Homo sapiens: one gene and its partners. The protein of the gene in region 1 interacts with the protein of each later gene in a pairwise test. Each region holds a gene or a part of one and is shown on either strand. Other genes may lie near its edges.

What was found. The genes of interacting proteins can lie anywhere in the genome.
Region 2: the proteins of NME4 (region 1) and CIDEB interact in binary tests that used the Homo sapiens proteins (3 or more experiments, as listed by UniProt).
Region 3: the proteins of NME4 (region 1) and LMO4 interact in binary tests that used the Homo sapiens proteins (3 or more experiments, as listed by UniProt).

Annotation. Positions count from the first base shown.
Region 1 is NC_000016.10:392,683-400,201, forward strand, and holds the start of NME4 (nucleoside diphosphate kinase, mitochondrial isoform a precursor), read left to right. Parts: upstream 1-4,516; 5' UTR 4,517-4,540; coding exon 4,541-4,631; intron 4,632-5,059; exon of another isoform or gene 5,060-5,497; intron 5,498-5,525; exon of another isoform or gene 5,526-5,712; intron 5,713-6,307; coding exon 6,308-6,441; intron 6,442-6,696; coding exon 6,697-6,798; intron 6,799-6,944; coding exon 6,945-7,057; intron 7,058-7,426; coding exon of another isoform or gene 7,427-7,508; exon of another isoform or gene 7,509-7,519.
Region 2 is NC_000014.9:24,304,972-24,312,945, forward strand, and holds CIDEB (lipid transferase CIDEB), read right to left. Parts: upstream 3,007-7,974; 5' UTR 2,888-3,006; coding exon 2,847-2,887; exon of another isoform or gene 2,545-2,846; coding exon 2,400-2,544; exon of another isoform or gene 1,553-2,399; coding exon 1,403-1,552; exon of another isoform or gene 1,167-1,402; coding exon 976-1,166; exon of another isoform or gene 795-975; coding exon 662-794; 3' UTR 216-661; downstream 1-215. Other genes in the region: NOP9 (nucleolar protein 9), read left to right, coding at 1-124; LTB4R2 (leukotriene B4 receptor 2), read left to right, coding at 5,694-6,770. UniProt on the Homo sapiens protein: Lipid transferase specifically expressed in hepatocytes, which promotes unilocular lipid droplet formation by mediating lipid droplet fusion. Lipid droplet fusion promotes their enlargement, restricting lipolysis and favoring lipid storage.
Region 3 is NC_000001.11:87,345,858-87,349,429, reverse strand, and holds the end of LMO4 (LIM domain transcription factor LMO4), read right to left. Parts: 3' UTR 507-3,572; downstream 1-506. UniProt on the Homo sapiens protein: Transcription cofactor. Plays a role in establishing motor neuron identity, in concert with MNX1, acting, at least in part, to disrupt LDB1-LHX3 complexes thereby negatively modulating interneuron genes in motor neurons.

The DNA.
Region 1 (7,519 bases):
TCCTGCCTCAGCCTCCTGCAGATTCACTTCTAAGCCCACCTATGTTGCTTTTGGCCAGAAACATCAGTTCCTTGTCATGGGGGCCTCCGCACAGGGCTGCTCACAACAGGGGAGCTGCTTCTCCCAGGAGGTGGCGGAGCAGCAGCAGCTGCAGTCTTTGGTGACCAGATTGTGAAAGTGACACTCCGTCTCTTTTGCTGTGTCAGAAGTCAGTCACCAGGCATGGTCCACACTCAAGGGGTAGGCATTACACAAGGAAATGAACTGGGTTTTGCTTTTCTTGTTGAGTTACGAGAGTTCTTTTTTGTTTTGTTTTGAGACAGGGTCTCATTCTGTTGCCCAGGCTGAGTGCAGTGGTGCGATCACAGCTCAATCCAGCCTGGACCTCTTGGGCTCAAGCAATCTTCCCACCTCAGCCTTCCCGGTAGCTGGAAATACAGGCGCACACCAACACGCCCCGCTAATTTTTTATTTTTTTGTAGAGACAGGTTTCACTATGTTTCCCAGGCTGGTCTCAAACTCCTGGCCTCAAGTGATCCTCCAACCTCTGCCTCCCACAGTGCTAAGAGTACAGGTGTGAACCATCCCATCACGCCTGGCCAAGAGAGTTATTTATTTATTTATTTATTGAGACAGAGTCTTGCTCTGTCTACCAGCCTGCAGTGCCATAACACAATCTCAGCTCACAGCAACCTCCGCCTCCCAGGGTCAAGCAATTCTCCTGCCTCAGCCTCCCAAGTAGCTCGGATTACAGGCACCTGCCACCAGGCCCGGCTAATTTTATATTTTTAGTAGAGACAGGGTTTCTCCATGTTGGTCAGGCTGGTCTCAAACTCCCAACCTCAGGTGATCCACCCGCCTCAGCCTCCCAAAGTGCTGCGATGACAGGCATGAGCCACCTCGTCCGGCCCAGCATAATTTTTTTTTTCTTTTTTTAAGATGGAGTCTTGTTCTGTCACCCAGGCTGGAGTGCAAGGGCACGATCTCAGCTCACTGCAACCTCTGCCTCCCGGGTTCAAGGGATTCTCCTGCCTCAGCCTCCCGAGTAGCTGGGATTACAGGTGCATGCCACCACACCCAGCTAATTTTTTGTATTTTTAGTATAGACAGGGTTTCGCCATGTCGGCCAGTCTGGTCTCGAACTCCTGACCTCAGGCGATACACCCACCGCAGCTTCCTAAAGTGCTGGGATGACAGGCGCGAGCCACTGCGCCCAGTCTCAGCATGTTTTTAATGTGCAAAATAAAATACAAGGAAATAAAAATATAAAAAACTATACTGAAATAAATTATCAAAATATTGTAGGCCAGGCCGGGCGCAGTGGCTCACACCTGTAATCCCAGCACTTTAGGAAGCTGCGGTGGGTGTATCGCCTGAGGTCAGGAGTTCGAGACCAGACTGGCCAACATGGCGAAACCCTGTCTATACTAAGAATACAAAAAATTAGCTGGGTGTGGTGGCGAGCACCTGTAATCCCAGCTACTCGGGAGGCTGAGGCAGGAGAATTGCTTGAACCCAGGAGGTGGGGGTTGCAGTGAGCTGAGATCATGCCCTTGCACTCCAGCCTGGGCAACAGAGTAAGACGATGTCTCACCAACAAACAAACAAAATATTTTAGGCAGCGGGGCGTGGTGGCTCACACCCGTAATCCCATCACTTTGGGAGGCCAAGGCGGGTTGATCACAAGGTCAAGAGATCGAGACCATCCTGGCCAACATGGTGAAACCCCATCTCTACTAAAAAACAAAAATTAGCCGGGTGTGGTGGCGCGTGCCTGTAATCTCAGCTACTCAGGAGGCTGAGGCAGGAGAATCGCTTGAATTGGGAGGCGGAGGTTGCAGTGAGCCAGGATTACACCACTGCACTCCAGCCTGGCAACAGAGTGAGACTCCATCTCAAAAACAAAAACAAAAACAAAAACAAAATATTTTAGGCCAAGTGCGGTGGCTCAGGCCTGTTTTCCTAGTTACTGGGGAGGCTGAGGCAGGAGGATCGCTTGAGGCTGGGAGGTGAAGGCTGCAGTTGAGCTATGACTGCACCACTGCACTCCAGCCCAGGTGACAGAACGAGACCCTGTTGCTAAAAAAACAAAAATAAAACATTAAAAAATGTACGATATAGTGGCCGGGCGCGGTGGCTCATGCCTGTAATCCCAGCACTTTGGGAGGCTGAGGCGGGCAGATCACAAGGTCAGGAGATCGAGACCATCCTGGCTAACATGGTGAAACCCCGTCTCTACTAAAAATACAAAAAAAAAAAAAAATTAGCCAGGCGTGGTGGCAGGCGCCTATAGTCCCAGCTGGAGGCTGAGGCAGGAGGATGGCGTGAACCCGGGAGGCGGAGCTTGCAGTGAGCCGAGATCGCGCCACTGCACTCCAACCTGGGTGACAGAGTGAGACTTCGTCTCAAAAAAAAAACAGAGTACGCTATAGTAATATCTGCTTTTTCCTTTTTGCAATAGCTTTATTGGGATACAATTGACATACTATACACTTCACTCATATATTTTTTGTTTATTTACTATTTTTTTTCAAGAGACAGGGTCTTGCTATATTGCCCTGGCTAGTCTCAAACTCCTGGGCTTATGTGATCCTCCTGCCTCAGCTTCCCAAATTGTTGGGATAATAGGCCTGAGCAAGAGTCCAGCCTCTAAAAAGAAAGAAAGTCACTTCTTTATACCATAGTACTGCAAATTCTAGTCAGAGCAACTAGACAAGAAAATAAAATAAAAGGCATTCAGATTGGAAAGAAAGAACTGAAACCGTCTCTATTCCCATATGACATGATGTTTTTTCTTTTCTTTTTTTTTTTTTTTTTGAGACAGAGTCTTGCTCTGTTGCCCAGGCTGGAGTGCAGTGGCATGCTCTCGGCTCATTGTGAGCTCCACCTCCTGGGTTCAAGCCATTCTCCTGCCTCAGCCTCCTGAGTAGCTGGGATTACAGGCATGCACCACCATGTCCAGCTAATTTTTGTATTTTTAGTAGAGACGGGGTTTCACCACGTTGACCAGGCTGGTCTTGAACTCCTGACCTCGTGATCCGCTCGCCTCGGGCTCCCAAAGTGCTGGGATTACAGACATGAGCCAGTGTGCCCCGCTCCATATGACACAATCTTATACAAAGAAATTCCCAAGGAATTAATTAAAAACTATTAGAACTAATAAATGCATTTGGAAGGCTTGCAGGATACAAGATCAATACACAAAGCTCAATTGTTGGCCAGGCGTGGTGGCTCACGCCTGTAATCCCAGCCCTTTGGGAGGCCAAGGCGGGTGGATCACCTGAGGCCACGAGTTTGAGACCAGCCTGGCCAACATGGCGAAACCCCGTCTCTACTAAAAATAAAAAAAAACACCAGCCAGGTGTGGTGGCAAGCTCCTGTAATTCCATCTACTCGGGAGCCTGAGGCAGGATAACTGCTTGAACCTGGGAGGCGGAGGCTGCAGTGAGCAGAGATATGCCATTATTGCACTCCAGCCTGGGCAACAAGAGCGACACTCTGTCTGAAAACAAACAAACCTCAATTGTCTGTTATACACTTGCAATGGACAATTCAAATAAGAAAACAATTCCATTCACAATAGCAGCAAAAAGAACAGGCTTTTTCAAGACTCATTAAGTAAGTTCTAGCAGTGGGAGACCTAACCATTTCAAATAGTAGCATGCTGTGCTATCTACCCAAATATTACCGTACCTGTGAATTCTGTTGGTGACAAAGTCACAGGCCCTGCAACTATGAATGTGGCTTCTTCCTTATATCCGCAATTGAATGAATTAGAGGAATGCAGTCACATCAGAGGCCATTTGAGAATAAAGGTCGGATTTTTCCCCATTCAAATTCACAGACCAGGCTCACATCTGTAATCCCAGCACCTTGGGAAGCCAAGGCAGGAGGATTTCTTGATCCCAGGAGTTTGAGACCAGCATGGGCAACATAGGGAGGCCCCATCTCTACAAAAAATTAAAATATTAGCTGGTTGTGGTGGCGCGGGTCTGTAGTCCCGCCTACTCGTCCTGGCCGCAGAGTCAGCGTCTCCGGAGCGCCTCCTTCTCCCGCCCTGGGGCTCACGTGGGAATTTCACCCTCCATTGGAGGGGGCTCAGACCAGGGCTTCTAGACCTCCTTTTGGTCCGTGAATTTATTTTTGAGACAGAGTCTTGCTCTATTGCTCAGGCTGGAGTGCAGCGGTGCAGTCACAGCTCACTGCAGCCTCAATCTCCTGGGCTCACGCGATCCTCCTGCCTCAGCCTCCCGAGTGGGCCTTCCTCCGTGGGAAAGCGTTAAAACGATAGTTAACGGTTGCGTCGGTGTAAAGACGAATGCAATTCGAGAAGGATTCATTATTATTTTGTTTTTTCTTCTGATTTTTAACAGAAATTGGCGTTGAACATTTCCCCCGTGAGCGCCGGGCCACGGGGGTCCGGGGCGGCGGGGGGCTCCGGGGCGGCGGGGGGCTCCCGGGCGGGCGGGGGCGGGTCTCGGGCTGGCACCGCCCTCCGCGCCCGCTCCTCGCGCTCACAGCGGCCCGCGGGCCGGGCGTCATGGGCGGCCTCTTCTGGCGCTCCGCGCTGCGGGGGCTGCGCTGCGGCCCGCGGGCCCCGGGCCCGAGCCTGCTAGTGCGCCACGGCTCGGGTGAGTGGGGCCGCGCGCCCCGGCGGGGACGCGGAGGGGAGGAAGGGGCGCGCGCCGCTCGGCCTTTGTGCGCGCACGTGCGGGCTGGGGTCCGACTCCCCCAGAGGCCTCGGGGCGCGGGCTGCGGGGTCCGTCCGAGTTGGGGAAGGCGCCGGCTCGCACCCGCACGCCCCTCCAGTGCCCGTCCGGCTCTGCGGCTCCTTCTCGCCTCCCCAGGCCCCAGGCTGCAGGCGCCCGGCGAGTTGGCAGCCTGGGCGGGTCCGGGGCGACCGAGGGCCCGGGAGCGCAAGGAAGGCAGAGGCCGGCTGCAGCACTGGGCGGGGAGGGGGTCTCCCGGCCGGGGTGGGGGTGGGGGTGTGGGGGGGTGAGGGAGTCGGGGGGTGGGGGTGGGGGTGTGGGGGGGTGAGGGAGTCGGGGGGTGGGGGTGGGGGGAGCCGCTCCGCTGGGGCGTTCGCTGAAGGCCAAGTTAGGCCAGAATCTGACTGGGACGTCAGGCCCCAAGTCCCCGGCCCCGCCGCTGCCCGGCCCCCCCAGCTGCCACCTCACAGGACGATCCATGTCCCAGGGCTCCCTCCATCGGCTCTGAAAAGTGAGCCGCCGCCTGCAATGCCCGCACCAGCCGCAGCAGAGCCCCAGGCTACACAAGGCGCCCTGCAAACTGGGTTTTGGGGGAACAAACCAACCAGGGGGTCTTCCTCCCGTGGGCTTCAGCCGCCTGCTGGGGTTAACTTTTCCTCCTGGCCTGGCGGAGCCCCTTTGGCTCTGTCCAGATTCTGTGGGACATACAGGGTCTGGGCTCCTCTGGAAACCAGGGACCCGATGCCGGAGGGTAGCTTGGCTCTGGAGCAGCCTGGGACTATAGGAAGGTGAGGACGTCTTCTGTTTCCCTGGCAGCGTCCCCTCCAGAGGAGGACGGCTGGGGCGGAGCTCAGCGCTGACCCTGGGTCTGGAAGCGACAGGCCTTGAAACTCCACAGCAGCACAGGCCCCGTCTCCTGGCTCGGACAGAACCCTGCTACCTTCCCTCTTCAATCTTCAGGCCCCTTTTTGTCCGTGTTTCCAGGGCTCACCTGGTGGGGAAAGTGTGTTTCTCCCTGGTTCCCTGCCACTCATTCACCTCAGACACAGGGTGGGCTCTGGGTTCTTCCTCATGTGGAAAGTCGGGGCTTCAGACCATGTCTGTCGTCATCCAGAAGGGATGGAGTCAAAAGTGAGGCTGGAGTTTTGCAGGATCTCCAGACTTCCCTGAGGCCACTGAGCTGGGCTGTGCCTCTGTGGACCTCAGGGTGGTCGCTGAGCTGGGCTGTCCCTCCCTGGACCTTGAGGTGGTCCCTGAGCTGGCTCTGCCTCTATGGACCTTGCGGTGGTGGTCCCTGAGCTGGGCAGTGCCTCCCTGAACCTCGGGGCGATCTCAGGCAGCCTCTGCCTCTGCTGGGAGGAGCCATGGCCCCTGGGAGAGGCTAGAAGCCCTGGGGACACATTGCCTTGGGTGTCCCTGACAGGGACTATCATGGGGGTGTTTGTGGCTGTGGGCACCATCCCTGTCCCTTCCAGAGTGCCCTGCATAGAGGCAGACACCCTGAAGCCTGGTGACCCCTGGGCTCTGGCTGGGAAACCCGGGTCGTGGGGACGTGAAAGGGTGAGGTGGCAGTGCCTCTGACCTCTTGCCTTTTGAAGGAGGGCCCTCCTGGACCCGGGAGCGGACCCTGGTGGCGGTGAAGCCCGATGGCGTGCAACGGCGGCTCGTTGGGGACGTGATCCAGCGCTTTGAGAGGCGGGGCTTCACGCTGGTGGGGATGAAGATGCTGCAGGTAGTGGGACTCTGGGCTTGTGGGTGTCCCTGTGGGGATGGGGTTGGGGGATCCTTCTCGGCCTTTCACATCCCAGCCAGCGCCGGGGCAGGGCCTGGCTTTGGCAGTTGAAGGGGCAGGAGGGATCTATTCTGCGGTGGGGGTGCTGCCCATGCTGGTGTTATCTGCAAGGTGCCTGAGGTCAGGGCATCACAGCTGCTGTGCTAGTGCCCACGTTTACTGTCTGCGGCTCCTCCTTACCTCAATGCCACCCAGGCACCAGAGAGCGTCCTTGCCGAGCACTACCAGGACCTGCGGAGGAAGCCCTTCTACCCTGCCCTCATCCGCTACATGAGCTCTGGGCCTGTGGTGGCCATGGTACGGCAGGGCAGGGGTGGTGGAAGGGCCTGTGGGTAAAGGGCGTGTGGGTGTGTCTTTCCCCCCAGCAAAGGGAGGGGCCCTGGATTGAGCCCAGGGGCCCTTGGTGTTCCCCACTTCTCCCCAACCATTATCTCTCGCTGCAGGTCTGGGAAGGGTACAATGTCGTCCGCGCCTCGAGGGCCATGATTGGACACACCGACTCGGCTGAGGCTGCCCCAGGAACCATAAGGGGTGACTTCAGCGTCCACATCAGCAGGTACGGGGGTCCTGATACACCAGGCTGCTGCTGGGGGCAAGGAGGGCCATCACTTGGGGTGGTGGCAGATCCACGAGACCTGGCTGTCTTGCTGTGCTAGGATGAAGCCAGGTCGGACATGACAGCTCACACTGGTGAGAGCCGTGTTCTCCCAGGGCACACAGGGCAATGAGGTGTTCCCTTTGTGTTGTGTGTACCGTGCCATCGTTGCCTGTTACCTGACACCCCAAGGGGTTGGCACGGGGCAACTTGGGGGGAAATGAGGCTCCCAAAAGCTGGGGCCTGGGCGGGTCCACGAGGCTGTAAGAGGCCGAGGCCAGGCTGGAACCCGGTTTCCCAGCTCCACTGTTACTCCTTCCCTGTCTGCAGTCACAGGCTTGCTCCCCTAGACAGAGGGCAACGGGAGCAGCAGATGGTCCCTGGGATTCCTCAGGGTGCACATGAAGCCTGAGCCTCACATTG
Region 2 (7,974 bases), on another chromosome or scaffold:
CGGCCACCATGTGGCTCGAAATGTGGCCTTGACTACCTTCCTAAAGCGGCGAGAGGCTTGGGAACAGCAGCAGGGTGCGGTGGCCAAGCGGAGGCGGGCATTGAACTCCATACTTGAAGACTGAGGCTTTGGATCTGGGACTGGGTGTTGATGGGGGAGGGCAAAATGGGGTATCCACCCCATCCCTTTCCTGGTTTAAATTGGAGTCAGAAGTCTTAGTGGTAAATATTTGATATTTTTATTGGAAATGTTTTTGTTAGTTTGAGGGGAAGGGTATGAAGACAGATCTCAAGGTAAAGTCAGAGAGGGCTGTCATCAGTATGCTGGGGAGTTTAGGGACAGGAGGCATTGGTAGGGGATTAGATGTAGCAGCAGTCAGGCTGGGATCAAGATGCCTGGGGGACATCTTGATCTTGGCCTTTCAGGGCAAGTGGGAGGCCAGAAAGGTGGCTAGGAAAGAACAGCATTCTTCAGGTAAGGGTATAGACTTGGGATGTGAGGCGTTATGCTGAAAGGTTCTGTCACGAGGGGATCAGAGGACAGTGGGGAAATTGGGTGGGTTATCTAGCCTGTACTGTCTGCAGGTCCTGAAATTTGATGCTGTCATAGTCTTTGCAGTGGGTCGGTTGGAATGATTCTGGGGGCAGAAGCTCAGAGCCCCTTAGTAGGAATGGAGGCGGCCCTTCTGCTGCCACTGCTCAGCCCCCTCCACTGCATGACGAAGGGTGGAGGAAATTCCCAGCAACATATGGCCCAGGCCTTGCAGCAGTGTGGAGGTCCAACGAAGGAGCTCCCTGAATGGCAGAGACAAGAGGAAATCAGATGATTTGGAAAACTTGGGAGGAAGCCATCAAGCTGGGAGATGAGGACTTTCCACAAGCAAGAGCTAACTAGGGGTAGGTGGGTGCAAGAGGACGAATTATGGGGACTATCCAACTGTAGGGGATGGGGCAGTATGACATGTTGATTTCTGACCTGAGTACTTTCTTTGGGCCAAGTCCTTGAAAGTCACAACTCATAGAGTAGAGCCCGTAGAATGTGGCTTTGACATTCAGGCTGCCAAAGAGGTCTCGAGGGTTTTGCTTGTACACGTCAAAGGTGAATCGGGCGATGTCCTTGCTGTGCTTGGGCCTCTCCCGTCCCAGGCCATATGACAGCACTCCACTCTGTAGGACACCCTTGTCAGTGCAGTAGATCCTCATACCAGACACCCACCACTAATCTCCATCAGCACTGGGTCAGACCCTCCCTCGCTTGGACTTTCTGTCCACTGTGTGACATCCTTGACAATTCCACAACTCCTCCTGCACCTGGTCCCCAGGATCAGGGTTAAGCTAGAGAGGAAGCCCGGGAAAGCTCTAAAGGACAGGCATTGGAAGCAGCCCCAGTATAGGCCTCTTACCCTTGTAGGGCTCCAGCTCTGACCAGACTGCAACACCATCAGGCACGTGTCATCCTCCAGCAGCTGGAAGAAGTCCTCACTGTCCACTGCAGTTCCATCCTCCTCTAGCACCAGGGTTAGCACTCCATTCAGCAGTAGGGTCTCCAATGCCTGCCCAATGGCAAGAAGCAAGAAGGGCAGGTCTTATCCCATGCCCCTTCCCTCTTTAGCTGCCCAACATCCATCAGTTGGCTCTAGACATTGGTCGATGTCCCACTTTGACTTTCCGGCACTTTGATACCTCCTAAAGGTTGCAGCTCTCCGTGTTCTTCAGTTTTTGGGGGATCCTAGCTAGAGGCTGACCTTTTTCCTCTTTGCTCCTACCATGTCATTGGCATCTCCCCTTGCTCCCCTCCAAGTCACTTCTGGTTTGGAATTGGAAAGCAAGCCAGGTTCTCACGAAGTCCACCCTTCTGTCTTATCTACAATGCTGCACCTCACTTCCCACACCCTCAAGAGTTCTCCAGAAGTGTTTTCAGTAATAGTGTTTAACCTTTTTGAGTCCTTACTCTGTGCCAGGTATGAGGACTTTACCTACATTATCCTCTTACTCCTTTCAACAACCCTAGGAGGTGATGTATTATTATTGCCTTTTTATAGTTGAAGAAACTGAGGTTTTGGTAGGTTGAACAACTTCCCAAGGTTTGACAGGCAGGAAGTGGCAGAATCAGAATTTGAACTTGATTTGTCACACAAATCACCTTTCCATACTAGCTTCTGAATTCTGTCCCTCGAACTCTCCCTATCTCCTGCTAACCCCTGCTCCCATAGAAAAGCTCACTCGGTGGAAAATGAACAAATTGACCAGAGCTCATTAGGCCCACTCCGCTGCTTTTAGCCCTCAGAGGGAGGGGCAGCTGTGTGACTTCAGCCCTCTGCTCCATCATCACAAGTTGCCACTGTTGTGGAGCCCCTTGGCTACCCCTGCTATAGGAACCGAGGAACTTGGCCTACTTACTTTGGCTAGCAGCTCCTGGCGGGTGGCAGCTGTCAGGCCTTTCCGGATGGTCCGCTTGTGATCACAGACACGGAAAGGTCGCTGGGGTGGTGGAGCTGAGGTCCAGACCCTCCGTCCAAACTCCGAGCTTATATTAGATACTGACCTGGTAGTTGAGAAGAAAAGTCAAGAAGGGGCGAGGAGGGGCTTGGTGAGTGTAAAGGGCATGATGAGGGTAGAGTGGCTAGAGGGCTAGGGAGGGAGAGATCTAGGTTTATCGATTAGGGATGAGGGAGAGACCATGGAGTGCAGGTGGGGGCGGGTGGCTCAGGAGCTTGACAAGCCCACTGTGGAGTGGGGAGCAGGAGAGGAAGGGGTACTGGTTAGTCTCCTAGGGGCTGAGTGGAGTATTGTTGCCCTGCCTATATCCCCTAAAGGTGGAGGGTAGAGCGGAGGGTTAGCAGTCACCTGAGTAAGTCACTGGGGTTCAGAGCTGAGAGGTACTCCATGGTGGACCGGAGAGTTCCTTCCCTGGAACTTCTGGGCTGGGTGGTTCTCTCCTGTGCTGGGGCTTTAGTGGTGTTTTCTGTTACAAACCTGGGATCTCAGCCCAGGACAAGGTGGGAATGAGTCAAGCCTGGACTCTGGCCCCCCTGCCTGGCCAGTAAGAAGGGCAAAGTCCAAGGGGAGGGATGAGGGAGGGGCCAGATGGGGTCCTGGAGGAAGAATTGCCTGGCAAAAGCCATTGGAGCTTGTATGTGTGTCTTTGGTGATGACATGTGTTGTGAGGGTAGATGGGAACCATGTAAAAGGATGAAATGTGACTTCTGGTGTTTTTTTATTTCTATGGAGGGAATTTCTGGGGACGGTTTCTGGCTCTCAGGCTCTGAGAAGCTGCAGTTTATGAGTGGCTCTGTGTGTGCTGCCACCTACTGGAGAAGCCATAAGCTGCAGCTTTAGGAAAAGGGAACCCGGGGCAGAGTGTGGGGAAGTGGGATGGCAGCATGGCAGGGCTTTGGAAAATGAGAGGTGAGACTGTGTCCAGGAAGGGTGTAAGGAGAGGATGGATCCTGATACATGGATTCAGGATCATTAGGGTCCTGTCTGGGACACTGGCCTTCCTGCTTACCTGCTCTTTCCTTCCTCCTTGGTCGGAGGAGGGGCTGGCTCACTGCTCTGGCTTCATTTTCCAGAGCTGCCTGCTGCAGTCACACTTAGGTCATCTTCTCTCACTTTTCTCCTTTTGCCGATTAGTGGACGTGACAGAGATGTGAATGGGGCAGGGATGTCCTTTGATGGCATCAAGACTTTAGCTTCTGGTGCGCTGTGTCCCAGCTCTGATTTCAGTTGCAGCCGTGATGGACAGTTGCATGGAAGCTGAGACTCTCACTGACAGTGAAACCCTCAAATGAACACAATCCCTGCTTTCCTGCCAAGGATCCTTGTAGGGTCCCCCAGCTTCCCCACTTTTTTTCTGTGTCCTGACAAAGAAACACAGAGTAACTTGATTGCCCTGTGACCTGGCCAGTTGCATTTCCCCTGCAGGCTTGAGCCCAAGCCAGAGCCTTGAAAAGGTATTCAGGTTGTTGCCCAAAACACTGAAAAAAACTGGCCCTGGCCCTGAACCAAATACCTTGAACCCTCGTAAACTCCATACCCTGACCCCCTTGTTTTGGATATACCCAGGTAGAACAACTCTCTCTCACTGTCTGTTGTGAGGATACGCTGTAGCCCACTCATTAAGTACATTCTCCTAATAAATGCTTTGGACTGATCACCCTGCCAGTCTTTTGTCTTGGGCAATCTATACTTTTCTCAGAGGTTCCCAAGGCCTACTGAAGGGACTTAACATACTCTTAATGGCTTTCCTCTCTCTTGTTTTACCTTATGCCCTCACTTCCTGAGTTAACCTCCCAAATACAGGATCACCTGTACCCAAGCCCTTAGCTCAAGAATACAGGATCACCTGTACCCAAGCCCTTAGCTCAAGCTCTGCTTTGGAAGAACCCAAACTAAGACAGTGCTCCTGGTGCCCTCCCCAAGCAACCTCAAGTTCTGGCTGTTACTTGAGCAGAGGCCTTTCTTTTCCCTTCCCCCAGCTCTATCCATCTGCCAGGCCCCCCTCAAATCTCTTCATTTCCAAGTTTTGCTTGACTTTTCCAAGAGGAGAGGGCTGCTTCTTAGTATGTCCCTACTCATCCTTTCCTTTCTTGTCTTGTATCCTGGTGCAGCCTGGTAATGGGGCCTCTTCATGGTTGTGTGTCATGACTCCCTAACCATTATGCCTCCATGCATCCCCTGTTCCTCCTGGAACCTAGCACCATGCCTTACATGGAAAAGCTGTCATTGACAGCCCGGTGAGAGCCCTGAGGGTGGAGTGACTGGGGCAGGGCCTGAGGCAAGAGGTGGGAGGAGGTAGGAGGCCAGGGGCTCAGCCGGACCAGGAGACTGGAAACAGGCAAGGATAAGGCAGGTGGGGGACTGAGTTGTTTGGGTCACCTCTGCAGGCCAGAGAGACCAGGCAACATACACACTGCAGAAGGTGGGCTGGGAGGATTGGGGCCAGAGCTGGGGGAGGGATGAGAACAGAAGCAGGACCAGGATTCAGCAGAGTCCTCCTATTTCCTTCCACCACCAGGGAATCTTACTGCCCCACTTCAGCTTGTGCTGTTTCCTGGCAAGGCAGGCTCTCACATGCCTGGACGCCTGGGTGCGTTGGTGATGGGAAGGAGCAGGGTGAGGGAGGGGCCCCAGGAGAGGCCCAGGATGAGCCTCATCTTGTCCCTCCCCATTCTTGTCTTACCCTCTGCAAATGTGATAGGCACAGGACAGGAGTAGGCACCTCGCCTACTGCTGCTTAACCTTTCAGCTTCTCCAGGCCCCCAATCCTGCTTGCTCCCAGCTTGGTAAGTAGATCTGTGCACGTCCCTTTACACCCCACCATCCAGTTTTGCCCAGATGTGCTAGAATGGGGCTGGACAAAGAAGGAGGGGCCAGACTAGAGGAGTGGTGGTAGAGATAGTGACAGCCTGGGGTGATGACTTTATGCCTGTTTACCACTGAGCTCTGGGAAGGAGGCCAGGAGTGGGGCAGGTCAACTGACTGGGAGCAGGGGATCTGGGTTCCAAGAAGGAGTTGTGTTTGAGGTGGGGTCTGGGTCCTCGTGGAAGTCAGGACTCCCAGGCAGAAAAGAGGCAGGCTGCAGGGAAGTAAGGAGGAGGCATGGCACCTTCTCATCGGGCATCACAGGTGGGGTTTTGCCCCACCCCTGAACGCCCTCTGTGGCGCCTTCCACCCACCTGTAGGCCCAGAAGGATGTCGGTCTGCTACCGTCCCCCAGGGAACGAGACACTGCTGAGCTGGAAGACTTCGCGGGCCACAGGCACAGCCTTCCTGCTGCTGGCGGCGCTGCTGGGGCTGCCTGGCAACGGCTTCGTGGTGTGGAGCTTGGCGGGCTGGCGGCCTGCACGGGGGCGACCGCTGGCGGCCACGCTTGTGCTGCACCTGGCGCTGGCCGACGGCGCGGTGCTGCTGCTCACGCCGCTCTTTGTGGCCTTCCTGACCCGGCAGGCCTGGCCGCTGGGCCAGGCGGGCTGCAAGGCGGTGTACTACGTGTGCGCGCTCAGCATGTACGCCAGCGTGCTGCTCACCGGCCTGCTCAGCCTGCAGCGCTGCCTCGCAGTCACCCGCCCCTTCCTGGCGCCTCGGCTGCGCAGCCCGGCCCTGGCCCGCCGCCTGCTGCTGGCGGTCTGGCTGGCCGCCCTGTTGCTCGCCGTCCCGGCCGCCGTCTACCGCCACCTGTGGAGGGACCGCGTATGCCAGCTGTGCCACCCGTCGCCGGTCCACGCCGCCGCCCACCTGAGCCTGGAGACTCTGACCGCTTTCGTGCTTCCTTTCGGGCTGATGCTCGGCTGCTACAGCGTGACGCTGGCACGGCTGCGGGGCGCCCGCTGGGGCTCCGGGCGGCACGGGGCGCGGGTGGGCCGGCTGGTGAGCGCCATCGTGCTTGCCTTCGGCTTGCTCTGGGCCCCCTACCACGCAGTCAACCTTCTGCAGGCGGTCGCAGCGCTGGCTCCACCGGAAGGGGCCTTGGCGAAGCTGGGCGGAGCCGGCCAGGCGGCGCGAGCGGGAACTACGGCCTTGGCCTTCTTCAGTTCTAGCGTCAACCCGGTGCTCTACGTCTTCACCGCTGGAGATCTGCTGCCCCGGGCAGGTCCCCGTTTCCTCACGCGGCTCTTCGAAGGCTCTGGGGAGGCCCGAGGGGGCGGCCGCTCTAGGGAAGGGACCATGGAGCTCCGAACTACCCCTCAGCTGAAAGTGGTGGGGCAGGGCCGCGGCAATGGAGACCCGGGGGGTGGGATGGAGAAGGACGGTCCGGAATGGGACCTTTGACAGCAGACCCTACAACCTGCTGCCCTTCCCTGTCCCTTTCCACCCCCCACCCACCCTCCAGAGGTCAGTGTTCTGGGACATTTGGGGACCCTTCTTTGACTAGAGTTTGGATCTGGCTGGGTAGGATTACTATACACTTGGGGCAGGCCCAGGCTCCTCCAAACTGAGGGATTATGAGGGTGGTGATGGTCCCTGTTAAGGACTATTGTGTGCTTGCAAGTTGGCATGTACCCATGTGCCAGCATTGCTTACTTGTTGCCAATAGCTGTTATTGTGAAATACACTGGGAAGCCATTAGATGATGACTTAAGTGTGCTTCCCCTGGTGGTTCTTCATGCCTGAGTTGTACTGAAGCCACCTAGTTCCCTGCTGGGTCAAGCCAGGCTGGGCAGTGCCAGCCTTCAGTGGCATCTTGACCTGCCCTCCTCAGCCCAGGTGCCCTGGTTCCACAGGCCAACCCATAGAACCACTCTGGAAATAAAGGAGAAAATGGAAGGAGAGGTATGGGAGCTTGGATGAGGGGTAGGAATGGGATCCATTCTCTGAGGCTTATAAAAGCCTCTGAGGAGGAAATGGCTCTGAAGGGGAAAATGAATCTGTGGGGTTTGAAAAGGAAGTTTTCCTGCCTGTCTTGTATTTGGTCCAGTGAGTATGAGACAGGCACACAAGGAGTGGACAGTGGTGTAGGGGCCCTGGGAGTCTGAGACTTACCTTGCCCCCTGACCATCTGATCCTCCCTGCAAAGGCCACCTGACGTGAAAAGGAGCCAGGAGCAAGCACTCAGTCAGGGAAGTTTGGAGGTTGGCCATTGGGGTATGAGGAATGGCAGGAATATTTAGAGGACAGGAATAATTTTTCAGAGAAGTGCCACATATTCTTTTTCTCTTTGCCAAGTCTGGGCTCCTTCTAAGATGCTGCTAGCTATTCCTAGCCCGTTCCCCAATACTTCTCTGCCCCCACCTTTTGGAATCCTTATCTAGGTCTAAAAACGGTTCTAGATCCTGACCCCTTTGATTGGGGGATGTAGAATGGGATTCTTTTCAGGGGACATCCACAAGTACACATCTGTGGTCACTAAGGTGACCAGCTCATCCCAGTTGGCCTGGAACTTTCCCAGTTTAAGCACTGAAAACTCCTTGTCCCAGCCCTGCCGGTTTCCCAACAAACTGAGATGGTTGGCCGCTCAAGTGGCTACCCTGACCAT
Region 3 (3,572 bases), on another chromosome or scaffold:
AACAACAGGTGAAAGCACACAAATATAGAAACTGTTTTTGAAGAAGTTGGGGATGTTAACCTTTTAGTTCAAGATGGGGGGTTGTTCCAGAGTGAAGGAAGGTGAGATGCCTCCCGTTCTCATGAGCTAATGATTGTTTCCAAACTGGTTAGAATTCAGTGCTAATTGCATTTTAAAACACCACCTCTGAAATCCTTTTCTCTCTCAGGATCTTGCATCAATGTTTCACATTTTCAATGCAACCTTTGCACTTCACCTTTCTCACTCAACAAATTCTGAATGTCAGATCTACGGGAAGAACTCAGTTCAGATCCTTCCTCTCCCCAGCAGGTTTTGATCTGGTGATGGTGATGTCAATTCCTAGGAAAGGCTGTCCTGCCCTGGTTCTGAGGGGAGAGAGACAATTAAAATCGGTACTTTGGTGACTCTACTCAGGCTTGTCCATTCTAACAGGGAGTCATTAAACAACTTTCCAGTGTCATTCAAAGAACTTATAACAGAATCAATTGATTTTCATCCTCTGCTTTATTAGTTGTGATTTAGGAAATAGAATGGCCCTGTTTACACAGCTGTAACATGTCAGGGCCTGTAGTACATTATTGGCTTGAGGCCTCCGAGTTGCCGTCCATTCTCAGCAGAATCAATCTGAACTTGAAAACATTCCCTCTAGGAAACATGCACATATCTACTAGCATAAAGCACTTCTTGCACAACTGAAAACAGTATTCACTTGAGGTAAGTTGCAAGTTCACCTTCCAAAAATCAGCCCTGACTTGTCATTGCTCTCAGCATGTTCACGATGGGAGCAGAGGGCTACAAATGCCTCTTTAACTAGGTACCCAGCATCGGCGAATGTGCTACACTTTGCTGCTAGTCAGATCTCAGACTCTGCAAGTGGGAGTAGCTGGCTGTTTAACATGCGTTCAGAGCACTGCCAATCTAAAATGGCTGCTCAGTAATACTTTAATTGCAGTTTCATGGAAACAAATTGCTATTTAACTGCAATAAGCACTTCTGTGACTTGGCTGCACTAACAATAGGTGAGTCTTAGTAACAAAGCTATAAGTAACATTAACTTGTAAATGGCCTTTTTCCAATGGCCTCTTGAAGGGGTCATAGGTGGGACAGCACCCAGGATAGAATTCCCTGGTGAAGGGTGAAGGGGTCTTTGGGGTGAAGGGTGATGGGGTTTTTGGATCTCCTCAATTTAAATACAATTAGTTAGGCTACATGGGAACTCTTCACTAGACTCCATATGTAGCTCTTGGGTTCACTGTTTATTATATGATTTATGGGCCCTAAGAAATATTTTATATAAATAGTAGTGCACATTAGAATCTTACTATATTGACATTTAAAGCCCTTTAAGAGCTTCCTTTTAGATGATTAGTTGTTTCAAATATCAGTGTTAATAAGGGCAAAAGAAAGAATTTAAATACAGGTAATATTAAGAGGATGACAATTTCACAGACTTCATTTTGGTGTGTCAGTTTTCTCGTTTTGTATTTTATAAGACACTACAGTCCGGGTTAAACTATTTCCTAATAAATCATGAAGAGCTGAAAATAGTTTCTAGTGGCAAACGATTTGGTTTGGAAAAGCTTCAGGCTCCCCTGCCTTGCGGGATGTGTAAATCTAATTAGACAGTTAGATAGGTAAAAAACATTAAACCCTTTTAGAGGACTATCTTTTTACAAAATTGTTTCATTAACAAGAGTGACAATTTGCATGATTGAGACATTTATATGTACCATAAACATAATTTTTTTTATCAGGAGTTCAGCAGGGCTCAGTAACATTTGCTTTTATTTTTAATTGCACTTGCTTGTAGGGACTGGGGGCCATCTTGCTCTATGACGTGGTTAATATTAAATAAGTCCTTTCTAAAGAACAGTGTCCATCTTGCTAACTAATAACATCACAAATGCAATGGATGAAAGGTGGAATAAACTCATAGATTTTTTTTTTTCCTAAGCAATGTTGAGATTGGGGGAGGAACTGCACACAATCGCTGCTCACATCAGAATAAACCTGAGTGTTTTTAGTAGCTTTCTATCCACACAGAGCATCCCCATTAGAGCCGGGTTTTATTGTTTGAAATGCCTCTGGTTTCAAGAAAGTGTTTTACCTAAAGCAAGACTACTACTTAAATATGTTCTATTGTATATTCATAGCTCCATTAGTCCTTCTCCAATTTAGCACATCAAAGAGAAGGCTTCATCACTTGCATGTGGATTATACTAACATGAGTGACATTTGTAATCTTATAGGTCTGCAACTTAAGAAATGCTTTTAGAAGCTCATTATTAAATACGCAGCAGTGCTTGAGGAACCAGCCATATAATAGTTTATTTAAAGTCCGTAATGACCTTAGCCCTCCACATCATTAAATGCGACAATATATTATTTACTAAAGTTATTAACCACCTCCTTTGAATTTGTACATATCAGGGACATAAGTGCTTATGCCAAAAAGAATATAGAAAATGCCTGCAATCTCATTAACCCATTTCCCCCTTTACCATCGCAGTCTAACTTCCTTCAGAAAGTTCCTTAAAGGAAAAAAAACAAATATAAGAACCAGAACTAGTTTGAAGAAATTCCCCAAGGATCTAATTCAAACAGACATCTAATTCAAACATATATATGTGATTTCTTCATATTATTTTCTTGCATTTTATTTTTATAAGGTTCTAACAAAACTATTCACCTCAACTCTATGCCTTTACAATCTCCTCTAGGAGGTTTGAAGTTCAACTGATTTTTTTTTTCCCCTGCCCTGGAATCTCTGAAAACAGGAAGTGAGCACAGAAGTTCTCAAAGGGAAGCTGACTGGTAGTTGAGATGTGCTGAGCTACACCTCTCTACATGGCTCCACGGCTATTCTCAGAGGGAGGGTCTACATCAGGCGCTTTTCTGGAACAAAATAAAATGCCATCTTAAAAAAGAAAATTTAAAATAGTAGCGTTCACACACCTGGTTTTATTAGCCTGTGATGGAAGTTGTAGTTGAAATTTGCTCACATCTAAGGAAGCTGGCAGTACAACCTCAGCCTCCAGGCCTATTTGGTTTTCCTCCTTCCAGCACTAGCTGTTATACTGCATGCTTTCCGGAGGGCAGCTCTGCGGGCAGTGCAGGCACTGTGGTGGACACTCTGCTGCCTGCAACCAGCAACTCAGTATCTCAAGACTAAGACTAAATGAAGTCAGAATCTTCCCCCAAAATACATACGGAAACGCAGTCAGTAAAGAAGTGTAGGAGCAAAACAAAATAAACACCTTACAGCCAACCACACGAGCCTAAGGGTCACCAGGAAATGGCTACTTCACCAATCAAAGATCACCATAAAAAAAGAGCTCTGGGTCCCTACAACTAAGTGAGCTTCAAAATATGTACAGGTATGACTTAGAAATTGTGACTTCCTTCAAAAGCTATAAACTCAATAAGAGAACAGGATGGTTGTGCCGTATTTTTTTTTATACATACTTTTCATCAATACCCAAGGCTTTGTTTGCTATTGAGAAAAAGAATAAACAAAATAGTGGACACTCAAGTATTTATAAACACAAAAG